Linked DNA regions of Homo sapiens: region 2 is reported to be linked to region 1. Evidence: microRNA targets listed by miRTarBase, many of them from high-throughput screens and not tested one by one. Region 1 holds a microRNA gene; the other region holds the end of a gene's coding sequence.

Region 1 (7,743 bases):
CCCCTGTGGACCTTACTGCTAACTGGCCAGGGGAATGATTCAGCTCCACTGGATCAAACCACATTCATGGGACGTTTTTGTCCGTTTGTTTTGAGACAGGGTCTTGCTCTGTCACCCAGCCTGGAGTGCAGTGGTACAAACATGGCTCACTGCAGCCTCTACCTCCTGGGATCAAGCAATCCTCCAGCTTCAGCCTCCTGAGTAGCTGAGATGACAGCTGCTCACCGCCATGTCCAGCAAATTTTTTTATTTTTTGTAAAGATACGATTTTACCATGTTGGTCAGGCTGGTCTTGAACTCTTGGGCTCACGCGATCCACCTGCCTCAGCTCCTAAAGTGCTGGGATTACAGGTCTGAGCCATGGTGTCCGGCCACACTCATGGATTTAATTGCCCTTGGAATCAACACCGTGCAGGAAAGGAGTAGGATTGAGCAGAAAAAGTTGAACTAAATGTAGTTACAGCAAATGCCTCAGCTTCCGGATCCTAAGGGAGCTCTGGTGCCAGGAGAGCCCTTCAGAGCAGCCCCACCCTGAGCCCTGCATCTGCCAGTCAGTGCAGACGGACCTGGTGAGAGGCAGCTTTCTTCAGCTGAAGGCAACTCCTGGAAAGGGATTTAGCTGATAGGTGTTGACAAGTAATGCGCCCAGCAGCTGAGGAAATGAGCACCTTAGTCCTGAAGAGTGGTGTGCTCTTTGGTATGCTGGGATGGTTGGTTGTGCCAGTGGAGATGGGGGTGGTGGGCAGAATGAAGGGAATACTACTGTAAAAGCTTTTTATTTTTTATTTATATTTATTCATTTATTTATTTTTTAAGACAAGGTCTAACTCTGATGCCCGGGCTGGAGTGCTGGAATGCAATGACACCATCACAGCTCACTGTAGCCTTGACCTCCTGGGCTCAAGCGATCCTCCCACTTCAGCTTCCCAAGTAACTGGAACCACAGGCACATGCCACCATGCCCAGCTAATTAAAAAAAAAAATTTTGTAGAGATGAGGTTTCGCCATGTTGCCCAGGGTGGTCTGGAACTCCTGGGCTCAAGTGATCCACCCACCTTGGCCTCCCAAAGTGCTGGGATGACAGGCATGAGCCACGGCTCCCAGCTTGGAACAAAACTCTTCGAAGAAAAAATTGGCAGAGCTTGTTGCCTGACCAAAAAACAGAGGCTGAATGAGAGAGATGCATTTAAAACAATACGAAACACTAAGGGTTCCCTGAATACTGTTGGACAGTGCAAAATGGGGGAAGTTAGGATACAAATCTAATTCTGTTCTACTGTAAGGCTCATGCCTTTTCACTAGACTAGTGCTGGTCAAACTGGTGTTCCATGGGCTACATTCAGACAGCAGACGTATTTTGTTTGGCTACACAGCATTTAAAAAATGTAAATTGGCTGCCACTATGTAAAAATTGGAAGAGTTTATATGTAAGTTCAGATCTCTAGCTTCTCTTGAGTAACTAGAAGATCTAGCAACACTGGGTCAACATTCCTGCATGGCAGTAACTGGAGTTGAGTGACAGATACTCTTTAAATGGAGAGAGTATCTCTTATCTGGATAAATGGAGGTGGGTATATGCTTCTTAATTCACCACAGTCTCTATGCATTACCTTCTTTGGCATTTTTTTTTTGAGATGGAGTCACTCTGTCGCCCAGGCTGGATTGCAGCAGCACAATCTAGGCTCACTGAAACCTCAGCCTCCTGGGTTCAAGCAATTCTCCTGCCTCAGTCACCCTAGTAAGTAGTTGGGATTACAGCCATGTGCCACCATGCCCGGCTTTTTTTTTTTTTTTTTTTTTTTTTTAGTAGAGATGGAGTTTCACCACATTGGCCAGGCTGGTCTCAAACTCCTGACCTCAGGTGATCTGCCTGCCTCGGCCTCCCAAAGTGCTGGGATTACAGGCATGAGCCACAGCGTCCAGTCTTCTTTGGCACTTTTGTTTAGCATTCCTGCCATATGTACTATGTATGGTCTAACAAAGTACATAATACATAACAGGCATTTGGGTACTTTTATTTTTATTTATTTTTTAGAGACAGGGTCTTGCTCTGTTGCCTAGGCTGGAGTGCAGTGGCGAGATCACAGCTCACTGCAGCCTTGACCTCTCTAGCTCAAGTGATCCTCCCACCTCAGCCTCCCAAGTTGCTGGGACCACAGATGCACACCACTATGCCTAACTAATTTAAATAATTTTTTTTGGTAGAAGCTGGGATCTCACTATGTTGCCCAGGCTGGTCTGAACTTCTAGGCTCAAGCAATCCTCCCACCTCGGCCTCTAAAAGTGCTGGCATTATAGGTGTGAGCCACCACGACCGGCCCATTTGGACACTTAATACTGGTTCAGCAGAACTGAATGAATTTAATTGGAGAGGAAGTTGGGGTGAAGTCTAGGCCTCTGACTATAATGAGAGGTTTGGCACTGAGGGGAGGCAACAGAACAGGGAGTACAAATTAGGATGAATTAATGACATGCTGGCAGGAGCTTGAGTAAAGGAAGAAGAGCAGAGGGCCAGGGCCTGAAGTTTGGGTGTCTTACCACAGAGCTAAAGAAGAGTGGGCAATGGTAGACTAAACTAGAGAAGAAGAGGAGAGAAAGGCACAGAGGAACTTCAGCAACGGAATGCCAGGGAAGGCAAGGGAGCTGAGGGTTTGGGCAGTTGCATCCAGTGTAGGGAAGAAGATCAGGGAGATAGACAGGCAAAAAGCCATGGCAACAAGGAAGTAGTTAGGGACTTTCAGAGGAAGTATGAGAAAAGGAGAGGAAGGTCATAGGTCTGAAGTTTAGCAGTGCAGTAGGGGGCACTGGAATACTATCTTGGGGGTATGAGTGAGTGCTTTTTCAGGGGTCCTACTTGGGAGAAACATAGATAGACATTCATTTAATATTCATCCATTTCTTTCCAGCATAGTCATCATTCTGACATCATCTAAAAGAAATTAGTATCTGCATTGCATCCTTAAAGAAGAAGGGACAAAAGACATGTCCAAACTGTCTGTCTGTTCTAGTGGAATAAAACATTAATTTAATATGTATTTTGGACAACCACCAACCTAGAGATTGGAAACTTTTCTCAAGGATATATCTCTCTGTATGTGGGCTACTGGCTTTGTGGCTTTTCTGTAGGAAAATTAAAATTCTAGTTTTGTTCTCCCTTATCACCCAGTGTCTGTGTGGCTTAACTGGCTGATTAGCGCGTGCTTGGAATGTGTAAATTCATTTTAACATTGGCCTAGGGGCCTGTGTGGTAGCTCACCCCTGTCATCCCAGCACTTTGGGAGGCCAAGGCAGGGGGATCACTTGAGGCCAGGAGTTCCAGACCAGCCTGGGCAACATAGCAAGACTGTGTCTCTACCAAAAAAAAAAAAAAAAAAAAAATTAGCCAAAGCAGGGTGACACTCACCTGTAGTCCCAGCTATTCAGGAGCTTGAGGTGGGAGGATCACTTCGGCCCAGGAGTCTGAGGCTGGAGTGAGCTATGATTGAGCCACTGCACTCCACTGCACAGAGTCAGACCTTGTCTCTGAAAAACAAAAACATTTGCCTAGGTAAAATGTATCGAGGAAGACAAATTTTAAAATTACTCATTCCAGGCCAGGTGCGGTGGCTCACACCTGTAATCCCAGTACTTTGGGAGGCTGAGGTGGGCGGATCATGAGGTCAGGAGTTCAAGACCAGCCTGGCCAATATGGTGAAACACCGTCTCTACTAAAAATACAAAAATTAGCCGGCTGTGGTGGCGCATGCCTGTAGTCCCAGCTACTCGGGAGGCTGAGGCAGAAGAATCACTTCAACCGGGAGGCGGAGGTTGCAGTGAGCCGAGATCGCGCCTCTGCACTCCAGCCTGGGTGACAGGGTGAGACTCTGTCTTAAAAAAAAAAAAAAAAAATTAGTCATTCCAAAGTCCAATGTCAGACATAGATTATCCGTTGTTTTGGATGTAATCCTCTTCCTGGAAAACTGGCACAACCCAATTACACATGAAATCCTTTCAACTCTGGTATTGGAGGTATAGGGAAGGACTTTGTTTTAGGAGACCCATAGTCTACCTCTATTGTTCTAGGAGTTAAACCACGTTGGTTTACATCCTGACTTTGCCACCTGTCAACTCAGACCTTGGGCAAATCAAAGGTCTGAGGGAGGAGTGCAGGCTCCCAGCGTTCCCACGGGGGTGGGGACGTGACGTATTCATCAGTTCATGAAGTTAATGATATGTATTGAAAAGGTTTGTTCAAGGATTTAAATAAGACGATGAATATATTGAATTAATAATGAATGCAAGGCCTTAAAGGTGTTTTGAGGGTGGTGAAACTTGAATCTCTCATCAACTGTGCAATAGTTATATTAACTTGGATGGCTATGAGTTTTGCAGAGGAAAGCTGGGCTTAAATCCCAATGCTAGACCTGGTGGCTAGACCTTGATTGCCACCGGGTCTAGCATTGGGATTTAAGCGACCTCTAAAAAAAAAAAATCACGGAATCTCTCTTTGGCCTTCCTTTTTTGTTTCTCAGCAGTCTACCAAGCTACGAAGAACCTGAAAATCGGAGGTCGTGTACCTTATTTTTTCTGAGAGCTTAAGCTGAGAGCACAGCCTCCCCAGGAGATTAGCGGCAGAGATCCGCGCGCTGGGAGAAAGGCTAGCCCCAGGGCGCCCTAACTTCCAACTCCGGGAGCAATCCAAACCCGGAGGCCGGCGGGGGAGGGGACAGCTGTAGGGGGCGGTGGGGATGGGAGTGGATGCTCCCGGGTCAGCTCTGGCACTCGCCAGCTGAGCCCAGCGCCAGTCTAGGTGAGCCCCACGGCGGTGAGGGACGCTCGCCAGACGGCCCAGAGGAGTTAGATGACGTCACCTCCAGGAGGACTCGCTTTTTCATTAATGAAACCGGCCGGCGCGGGCGCATGCGCGGCAGGCCGCCTTCCCTCTCGCTTCCCCCTCCCCTTTCCCAGCCGCGCTCTCAATCTCTAGCTCGCTCGCGCTCCCTCTCCCCGGGCCGTGGAAAGGATCCCACTTCCGGTGGGGTGTCATGGCGGCGTCTCGGACTGTGATGGCTGTGGGGAGACGGCGCTAGTGGGGAGAGCGACCAAGAGGCCCCCTCCCCTCCCCGGGTCCCCTTCCCCTATCCCCCTCCCCCCAGCCTCCTTGCCAACGCCCCCTTTCCCTCTCCCCCTCCCGCTCGGCGCTGACCCCCCATCCCCACCCCCGTGGGAACACTGGGAGCCTGCACTCCACAGACCCTCTCCTTGCCTCTTCCCTCACCTCAGCCTCCGCTCCCCGCCCTCTTCCCGGCCCAGGGCGCCGGCCCACCCTTCCCTCCGCCGCCCCCCGGCCGCGGGGAGGACATGGCCGCGCACAGGCCGGTGGAATGGGTCCAGGCCGTGGTCAGCCGCTTCGACGAGCAGGTAACCGGCCCGTGGCGGGCGGGAGGTGGGAGCGGAGTGGGGGTGGGGACAGAGTAGGTGAGGGGAGGTAGGAGCGGCCGCCTCCCCCGCGGCTGCCTCAGGCTCTGGAGGAAAGGAAGGGAAGGGAAGAGAAGGGAAGGGGGGATAAGTGGGGGTGGCCAAGGCGGGAGGTGAGGGGTAGGAGGGGACAGCTGGGAGCTTGGGCACCCTTTCCCTCCTAAGTCGGGGGGTGGGGCCTTGTCCCTGACCAGCCTCCGACCCTCCATCCCCTTTATCCCAGCCCTTCCGCTTGGAAATGGGGATGAGTGACCTGGGGGCGCCTTTAGGGGCGCGCCATCTGGATTTAATAATTACCCCCTTACTTTTGTTTTTGAGCAGAGGTGGGTAACGTTTAGGGGTTCTCTCTTCCTCTTCCCTCCGTGACCCTCCTAACTGGGGACGAGCGAACCCTAAGGCCTGTCTTATATACCCTCAATAGGAGAACGATAACATTCCGCCCCTCCCCCAGTTTCTTCAGCTTCCTCTCCTGGAGGGGGAAGAGCAGAAGAAAGCAAGGAAGGCACAGGTTTTCTTACTTTCTGCTCCATCGTCTCATCCTGCCCCGAGAGCTTCAAGTGCACACTCACTGCACATCTTTGTGATGCCCTACAACGTCGTCCCCCATATCCTGATGACACAGACTGCCTTTTTTTTTTATTGCCGTTTGCAGTGGAAACCGTGGTTCTGAAATATCTTCCCCTTCCTTGATAATTGCAGTCTCTTCCCCCCCCCCTTTTTTTTTTGCCAGCGGTCTGAGGATGTGATGCATTCTCGAGTGAGAATGTTGGGGAGTAAAGGGGAGAAGGGTGAAAGGAAAGTGAGAAACTGCTTCAGAGCCACCGACAACAGAGCAAAGCCAGCTGGGATGTGGTCCTGGAGCGGATCATTCTGCTAGTGTTTGTGGTTGTTTTTGACTCTCTCCTGGTTGACAAGAGAACTTTCATTGAGAATATTTGGGATGAAAAAAAAGTTTTGTAGCTTGAGGAGGTGACTTTTTATCGCCTGAGTTTCACACAATAAATCCTGGGGCTGATTAGAATAAATGCACACATAGCCTTTTGTCAGTGGAAATTGGTTTAACTTTGTGTTGCTGTAGGTAGTTGGGGATGGTTTAAGGGATGCTTTCTGCAGCTGTGGGTGCAGTGGGCTTCCTGTGATGGGGGAATTGTTTAAGATTGAGTCAACCTATTTTGTTTACTGGATATAATGGTAAAACATTATGGGAGCTGAAGGGGTGGGGGAAGAGCTCTTCTGTTATTTGATGCATAAACATTTCTTTACGGGACTCAGCGTTTCAGACCTACCTGGAAAATATCTTGGAATAGACAGAGGAAGTTGAGAAGAAGCTATGTAGATAAAATAGAGTTATGAAGCTGTCAGAGACTTGAAGGAATTGTTTTATCCATTCGTATGCTTCCAGACCCAAAGGCATCTAAACTAAACTACTAATCCATCTGAAGTATAATGTTACTGCATATAAAAGATTACATTATTGATAGAGCGTTAGATTTAAAACTTGGTAGAAAAGACTCTGTAATTTTAAGAAAGGATTTAAAAGGCACATAGAAGACTTCCAAAGCTGAACCTTGTGGACAGCAGAATCTGGATGTAGGAAATTGAAGGATCCACGCCGCAATTCTCCTTAAATTTTAAAAATTAAAAATTTTTTTCAGTTTTTTCTTAATTTTATTTTTTTACTTCTTACCTGTTCATCTCTAGGCTTATTTGCCATATTGGAAAAAGATACTTAAGAGAGGAATGATTTTGGGCTGGGCGCGGTGGCTCACGCCTGTAATCCCAGCACTTTGGGATGCCAAGGCAGGTGGATCACCTGAGGTCAGGAGTTTGAGACCAGCCTGACCAACATGGAGAAACCTCGTCTCTACTAAAAATACAAAAATTAGCTGGGCATGGTGGCGGGCGCCTGTAATCCCAGCTACTCGGGAGGCTGAGGCAGGAGAATTGCTTGAATCCGGGAGGTGGAGGTTGCAGTGAGCTGAGATCACACCACTGCACTCTAGCCTGGGCGACAGAGCGAGACTCTTGTCTCCAAAAAAAAAAAAAAAAAAAAAGGAGGAATGATTTTGATTATATACCCAGTAAAGCAAGAAAGTGTTTCTCCTTCTGTCCCTAGCTTTAAAAGACCTTAAGGCTTCGTTGTTTGTTATGCATATTGTGGAATCAAACTCACCACCATCTGTTAAAAATTAAGGACATTAGTTTTTAAAACAGCATTTTTCTGCATTCCTTATGTTGTAATTAAGAGAAAGATATATAGGAGAGATTATTCCTCACTTTTTTTTT
Region 2 (7,743 bases), not on the chromosome of region 1:
TCTCTCACCTCTGCAGACCTCGAGGCTCTGAGCAAGCAGGAAGAGAAAGATAAGGCAACGTTGTAAACTGCCAGGCTGAGTGCAGAAGGTATGTCCCAACACATACACAAATCCCCTTGGCAAAGACTGGGAGACATACTGGTTCCAGGCATTTAAAGAAATTTCTGTTCAATCATTAGTGGCCACTAAGCTAACCAAGAGACTTCAGTGGCCACAGAGGACAAGGAATAGAGACTACAGAATTTGTTCAGGAAAAAAACTAGACAAACTTGTGTTTTGAGACAGGGTCTTGCTCTGTCTCTCAGGCTGGAGTACAGTGGCACTAACACGGCTCACTGCAGCCTTGATCTCCCAGGCTCAAGCAATCCTCCAGCATCAGCCTCTGAGTAGCTGGGACTATAGGCATGCGCCACCACACCAAGCTAATTTAATTTATTTATTTATTTATTTATTTTTTGAGATGGAGTCTCACTCTGTCGCCCAGGCTGGAGTGCAGTGGTGCGATCTCAGCTCACTGCAAGCTCCGCCTCCCGGGTTCACACCATTCTCCTGTCTCAGCCTCCCGAGTAGCTGGGACTGCAGGGGCCCGCCACCACGCCTGGCTAATTTTTTTGTATTTTTAGTAGAGACGGGGTTTCACCGTGTTAGCCAGGATGGTCTCAATCTCCTGACCTCACGATCCACCTGCCTCGGCCTCCCAAAGTGCTGGGATTACAGGCGTGAGCCACCGCGCTCGGCCAATTTTTTTTTCTTTTTTAAGAGACGGGGTCTCACTATGTTGCCCGAGCTGGTCTCAAACTCCTAGGCTCAAATGATCCTCCTGCCTTGGCCTCCCAAAGTGCTTGGATTACAGGCATGAGCCACCGAGCTCAGCCTAAACAAACATTGAAAACAAACAAACAAAACAGCAACAAGAAACCCCAGGGAAGGGACAGAATCTGGTTTCCAGAGTTGCCACATTATATTATTTGAAATGTCCAGTTTTCAATAAAAAATTATGACACCTGCAAAGAAAGAAGAAAATACGACCCATCCACAGAATAAAGAAAAAAGACCACCTATAGAAACCATCCCTGAGAAAGCCCAGATGTTGGGTTTTCCTTTTTTCTTAATGTATTTTATTTTATTTATTTATTTATTTTGAGACAGAGTTTTGCTCTGTCGCCCCGGCTGGGGTGCAGTGGTGCAATCTCGGCTCACTGCAACCTCTGCCTCCCAGACTCAAGCAATTCTACTGCCTCAGCCTCCCAAGTAGTTGGGACTACAGGCACCCACTACCACACCTGGCTACTTTTTGTATTTTTAGTAGAGACAGGGTTTCACCATATTGGCCAGGCTGGTCTTGAACTCCTGACCTCAAGTGATCCACCTGCCTTGTCCTCCCAAAGTGCTGGGATTACAGGTGTGAGCCACCACGCCCAGCCAGATGCTGGGTTTTCTAATAAAAAGACTTTAAATGAGCTATTTAAAATACGTCCAAAAACCTCAAAGAAACTATGTCTAAAGAACTAAAGTATAGAAACAATATCTCACCAAATAGAGAGTATCAATACAGACATAGAAATATAAAAAATGAACCAAATAGAAATTTCTGGAGTTTAAAAGTGTAATAATCAAAATGAAAAATTCATCTTCTGCTGATGCTAGGAGTAGGGACATTGCCCTCATCTCTTTTTGGGGTTCTTTCTGTTAAATATGAAGACTTGCTTTTTTTTCTTTTTGAGACAAGGTCTCACTCTGTTGCCCAGGCTGGAGTGAGTGGTGCAATCACAGCTCACTGCAGCCCTGAACTCCTAGGTTCAAACAACTCTCCCACCTCAGCCTCCCTGAGTAGCTGGGACTGCAGGTGCAAACCACCATGCCCGACTAATTAAAAAAAAAAAATTGGGGCTGGGCGCGGTGGCTCACACCTGTAATCTCAGCACTTTGGGAGGCCAAGGCAGGCGGATCACCTGAGGTCAGGAGTTTGAAACCAGCCTGGCCAACATGGTGAAACCCTGTCTCTACTAAAAATACAAAAATTAGCTGGGCACGGTGGCGCATGCCTGTAGTCCCAGCTACTCAGGAGGCTGAAACAGGAAAATCGCTTGAACCCGGGAGGCAGAGGTTGCAGTGTGCCAAAATCGTGCCATTGCACTCCAGCCTGAGCAACAAAGCAAGACTCTGTCTCTAAATAAATAGATAAATAAATAAATAAATAATAAATAAATAAATAAATATTGTGTAGAGACAGGATCTCACTATGTTGCCCAGGTTGGTCTCAAATTCCTGGCCTCAAGTCATCCTCCTTAGCCTCCCAAAGTGCCCAGATTATAGGCATGAGTCAAGACTTGCAGTTTTAAGGCCAGGTGCTGGAATTTCAGGTTACCATTATTATCAAAAAGAATGGTTTGTTGAGCTTAAGTTTAGTGGCAGTAAAGGGAGTGGACAAAGCTATATAAGAGCAATGTTTTGTATAGTATTGAAATTAAGTTGGTATCAATCTGAACTAGATTGCTAAAAATTAAGATGTTATTTTTAATCCCTAGTATGGTCTGAATGTGTCCCCTCCAAAACTCAGGTGTTGTCAATGTGACAGTATTAAGAGATAGGGTCTTTAAGAAGTGACTAGGCCATGAGGGGTTCTCCCTAATGAGATTAGGTGTCCTTATAAATGAGATGGAGGGAGTTGCTTCTCTCATGTCCTTCTGCCTTCTGCCATATGAGAATGCAGCAAAAAGCGCTGACCAGATGCTGGTGCCTTGATCTTGGACTTTCCAGCCTCCAGAACTGTGAGAAAATAAATGTCTGTTCTATACAAATTACCCAGTCTGAGGTATTCTATCATAGCAGCACCAAAAGACTACTAAAATCCCCTAAGTAGGACTTGCATCCCAAGGAAGTGTAAGACTTCTGCACTGAAAACTACAAAACATTGCTGAAGGAAATTAAAGACCTAAATAAATGGAAAGATAGCCCATTTTTCATGGATCGGAAGATTTAATGAAGTACTGATACATGCTGTGGCATGCATAAACCTTGAAAATATGCTAAGTGAAAGAAGCCAGACACAAAAGACCACAGTGTATGATTCCACTTATATGAATGCCAAGAATAGGCAAATCCGTAGGGACAGAAAGTAGATTCATGGTTCCCAAAGGCTGGGCGGAGTGGGGAGTTACTATTAATGGGTATGAGGTTTCTGGTGGGGGGGGGTTGTTGTTGTTGTTGTTTGTTTTTTTTGTTTTTTTTTTTTGTTTTTGAAACAAGGTCTCACTCTGTTGCCCAGGCTGGAGTGCAATGGTCCAATCCAGCTCACTGCAGCCTTGAACTCCTTAGTTCAAGCAATTCTCCCACCCCAGCCTCCCTGAGTAGCTGAGACTGCAGGTGCACACCACCATGCCCAGCTAATTAAAAAAAAAACTTAGGGACAGGATCTCATTATGTTGCCCAGGTTGGTCTCAAATTCCTGGCCTCAAGTCATCCTCTTGCCTTGGCCTCCCAAAGTGCTGGGATTACAAGCATGAGTCATCGTGCCCAGCCAAGACTTGCAGTTTGAAGGCCAGGTGCTGGAATTTCAGGCTACCGTTATTCTCAAAAAGAATGGCTTGTTGAGCTTAAGTTTAGTGGCAGTAAGGGATAAAGAACAGTGAAACAAGGAGCATATAGTATTAATCAACTACAGACAACTGCCCTATTTGTAAATAGAAGCAGGGAAATAATATATATGTGTAGTAGCTTATAAATGCGTAAAAATTATCTGGGAGGATAAGCAAATGTCTCTCAAACATCTAAAAGCTTCCTTCAGGCTGGGTGCGGTGCTTCATGCCTATAATCTCAGCAATTTGGGAGGCCGAGATGGGTGGATCACTTGAGCCCAGGAATTCGAGACCAGCTTGGGCAACATGGTGAGACCCCGTCTCTACAAAAAAATACAAAAAAGGCCGGGCGCAGTGGCTCACACCTGTAATCCTAGCACTTTGGGAGGCTGAGGCAGGCGGATCACGAGGTCGGGAGGTGGATCACGAGGTCGGGAGATCGAGACCATCCTGACTAACATGGTGAAACCCCGTTTCTACTAAAAATACAAAAAATTAGCCAGGTGTGGTGGCACACATCTGTAGTCCCAGCTACTCGGGAGGCTGAGGCAAGAGAATCACTTGAACCCGGGGAACAGAGGTTGCACTGATCCGAGATCGTGCCATTGCACTCCAGCCTGGGAGACAAGAGCAAGACTTCATCTAAAAAATAAAATAAAATAAAATAAAATAAAATAAAATAAGCCGGGTGTGGTGGCATATGCCTGTGGTCCCAGCTACTTGGGAGGCTGAGGTAAGAGAATCACTTGAACCCGGGAAGTTGAGGTTGCAGTGAGCTGTGATCTCACTACTGTACTCCAGGCTGGATGACAGTGAAACCCTGCCAAAAAAAAAAAAAAAAAACCTTATTTCATAAATACGGCTCATGCCTGTAATCCGAGCACTTTGGGAGGCCAAGGTGGGAGGATCACTTGAGCCCAAGAGTTTGAGACCAGCCTAGGCAACATAGAGAGATCTCATTTCTACTGAAAATTTTAAAAATTATCCAGGCATAGTGGCGCATGCCTGTAGTCCCAGCTACTCAGAAGGCTGAGGCAGGAGGATAGCTTGAGCCTGGGAGGCTAAAGCTTCAGTGAGCCGTGATGGCACCACTGCACTCCAGCCTGGATGACAGAGCAAGACCCTGTCTCAAAAACAGTTAAAAATTAAAAATTAAAGAATTAGAAATACACACACACACACACACACACACACACACACACGTATGTGAAGTGTAATGGCAATACCATTTTTTCTATGAGGTTGACAAAAATCTGTTGCATTGCTCAGGCTGTTGACAAGGCTGTGGTGAAAATGGCACTCACATACTCATGCTAGCTTCTCCTTGCTCTTGCTTGGACCAGCCATGCTCGTTCCTACCTCGGGGCCCTTGCACCTGTTGCTCCCTCTGCCTGGAACACCCTTTGCCAAAATAACCATGAGGCTTGCTCCTTTCAGCCAACCTAGGACCAAATTCATTGCCCCCTCCTTAGTGAAGTCTCGCTGAATGCCTCCTCACCCACCACCTCCCCACACCACTCTCACATCGCTCATTTTCTTCATTGCACCATCTTTATGAGGAATGATTTCTCTTTTATTCTCTTTGTTAGGTCAGAGGTCAGCTAACATTTTCTGAAAAGGGCCAGAGAGTTAATAGCTCAGGCTTTGCAGGCCATATGGTCTCTGTTGCAAATCCTCAGCTCTGCACGAGAAAGCCACAAACAATATGTAAATGAAGAAGACACTGTAAATGATATGTAAATAATTTAGACACTGAAATTGATATGTAAATGATTTAGACACTGAAATTTGAATTTCACATAATTTCCAAGTGTCACAGAATATTATTTCTTTTAATAATATTTTTTCATTTTCTTTTCTTTTTTTTGAGACAGAGGCTGGAGTGCAGTGGTGAGATCTTGGCTCACTGCAACCTCTGACTCCCAAGTTCAAGCGATTCTCCTGCCTCAGCCTCCTGAGTAGCTGGGATTACAGGCGCGTGCCACCATGCCTGGCTGATTTTTGTATTTTTAGTAGAAACGGGGTTTCACCACGTTGGCCAGGCTGGTCTAGAACTCCTTACCTCAGGTGATCTGCCCGCGTCGGCCTCCCAAAGTGCTAGGATTACAGGCATGAGCCACCACACCCAGCCCCTTTTCTTTTTGAGACAGGGTCTCACTCTGTCACTCAGGCTAGAGTGCAGTGGCGTGATCATAGCTCACTGCACCCTCAATCTCCCGGGCTGAAGCGATCCTCCCACCTCAGTCTCCCAAGTAGCTGGGACTATAGGCTTGCACTATCACACCCGGCTATTTCTTTTAATATTTTTTGTAGAGATGGGGTCTTGCCGTGTTGCCCAGGCTGCTCTCAAATGATCCTCCTGCCTCAGACTCCCAAAGTGCTGGTGATTACAGGCATAAGCCACCATGCTGGATCCACCTTTTTTCAATCATTTAGAAATATGAAAGCCAGTCTTAGTTCAAGGGCCATACCAAAATAGGCAGCAGGATGGATTTGCCCACTCGTGTGTCAGAACATCAACTCCAGGGCACTATTGTCTGCTTGGTTCACTGCTATATCCCCAGCACCTAGAATAGTGCCTGGCACCCAGTAGGCTTTCAGGAGATGTTTACCGAGTGAATGAGTGAAGTCTTTTTCTGTGTGTGAGATGGAGTCTCACTCTGTCGCCCAGGCTGGAGTACAGTGGCACAATCTCGGCTCACTGCAACCTCCGCCTCCTGGGTTCAAGCGATTCTCCCGCCTTAGCCTCCCAAGTAGCTGGGACTATAGCGTGCACCACCACACCCAGTTAATTTTAGTATTTTTTAGTAGAGACGGGGTTTTGCCATGGTGGCCAGGCTGGTCTCAAACTTGTGATTTCAAGTGATCCGCCGGCCTCAACCTCCCAAAGTGCTGGGATTACAGGCGTGAGTCACTGCTCCTGGCCAAGTGGGTGAAATATTAAGTTGAGTAGCAAGTTACTGAAAGAGTGAAGTGAATGAATGCATGATCAGGCACAGTCCCACTCGCAGGGCTTCAGTTTGCTCCAGCCTGGACTCCGGCAGGCTCCCCCAGCAAGACTAAGAGAAAGATCAGAAGGCTGAGTCCAGAGTGGTAGCTCAACATCTTTATTTTTCCTCTTTAGCCCGAGGGTAATCCTGACAAACAGCTTCAGCCAGGAGGAGGCAGAGAGGACTGGGCTGGGCAAAGGCTCCACCAGGACCTGGCCTCCTCCTCCTCCTCCTCCTCCTCCTCCTCCTCCTCTTCTTCCTCCTCCTCCTCCTCCCATGGGGTTGGGGTTGGGATTAGGGCCATGATCCAAGCTTGGCATCCCTGGGGAGGAGGGAAGTGGGCCAGTCTGCAGCCTCTGCTGTCCCCCGCCTCTGACAACCACGTTCATGGGAACCAGCCACCTCCACATGTTGGGCAGGAGGGACCCTAGGGAGCGGCCCTGACCCCTCCATGTGCATGCGCACAGGGACCTGGGCCAGCAGGGCCTGATCAGTGTCCAGACATGCGGCTCTGGCCTGTGGCCCAGTTGGCAAACATAAAGCCTAGACTGACGGCCATGAAGAGGACTCCCAGGACTCCAAAGCACAGGGCCTGTGGGCCAGAGAGACAAGATGGGGCTGGTTGGGACTCCTCACCCAGTTGCCTTCTGAGAATGTTCCTCAAGTCTTCCACCTCCTTCAGAGAGTGCTCCATCCATTCCTGACCCTCCTCTGTATGCCCTCTCCTTCCTTACAGCCAGCCCCTTTCTGCGAGTCCTTCCACCTTCCCAGGACCCATGACAGAATACGTTCCTCCATCCTCCTTCTTCAAAGTGCTTCCAGCTCTCTTCCCAATAGTGCTCTTTCCATCTGTCTGGAGAATGCTCCCTCTATGCCAGCCTCTGTTTGAGTGCTCCCTGTCTTCCTGGACCCTGCTGGTGCTCTGTCTCCTCTGCCCCTTCCTAGACAATCACCTTCATTCTTCCAGACCATTCTTTCAGATGCTCTCCCAGCCCCCTCCTATGCATGTCCCTTTCACCTCCAGCCATCCTGGAGTGAGCACTCCCTCCTTGGAGTGCTCCCTCTCTCCCTAGCTCTGCCCTGGAATGCTTACCTGGATCTTGGGCCAGGATAAGAAAGGCTCCACCTCAGAGGGTACAATGCGGAGGTAGAAGATGCTGGGGAGGATGAAGATG

The links. Region 1 holds the annotated microRNA hsa-miR-4733-3p (CCACCAGGUCUAGCAUUGGGAU, at 4,389-4,410, opposite strand). A microRNA usually pairs through its seed, bases 2 to 8, with sites in the 3' UTR of a target mRNA and lowers its output. Matches are read on the target gene's strand: a 7mer-m8 pairs with bases 2 to 8, a 7mer-A1 pairs with bases 2 to 7 and ends in A, and an 8mer does both.
Region 2: miRTarBase lists SLC38A5 as a target of hsa-miR-4733-3p. Seed matches in the 3' UTR shown: 7mer-m8 at 6,772-6,778.

Annotation. Positions count from the first base shown.
Region 1 is chr17:31,089,970-31,097,712 of GRCh38, forward strand. It overlaps MIR4733 (microRNA 4733), which reads right to left and starts at 4,456; the gene lies at 4,381-4,456. It overlaps NF1 (neurofibromin 1), which reads left to right and starts at 5,008. Exons shown (of 58, transcript NM_001042492.3): 1 at 5,008-5,400. The coding sequence starts at 5,341. MIR4733HG (MIR4733 host gene) reads right to left here and starts at 5,521. Exons shown (of 4, transcript NR_186435.1): 1 at 5,258-5,521; 2 at 3,404-3,522; 3 at 1,056-1,149; 4 at 773-966. It overlaps LOC124903974 (a long non-coding RNA gene), which reads left to right and starts at 1,666. Exons shown (of 2, transcript XR_007065704.1): 1 at 1,666-1,738; 2 at 2,907-3,158. RefSeq lists a promoter at 4,588-5,013, cis regulatory regions at 4,621-4,860, 5,087-5,397, an enhancer at 5,001-5,018 and silencers at 5,253-5,322, 5,363-5,412.
Region 2 is chrX:48,451,875-48,459,617 of GRCh38, forward strand. It overlaps SLC38A5 (solute carrier family 38 member 5), which reads right to left. Exons shown (of 17, transcript NM_033518.4): 16 at 7,662-7,743; 17 at 6,670-7,160. The coding sequence ends at 7,059. Among named protein-coding and RNA genes, the nearest start is that of SLC38A5, 15 kb to the right of the region's middle.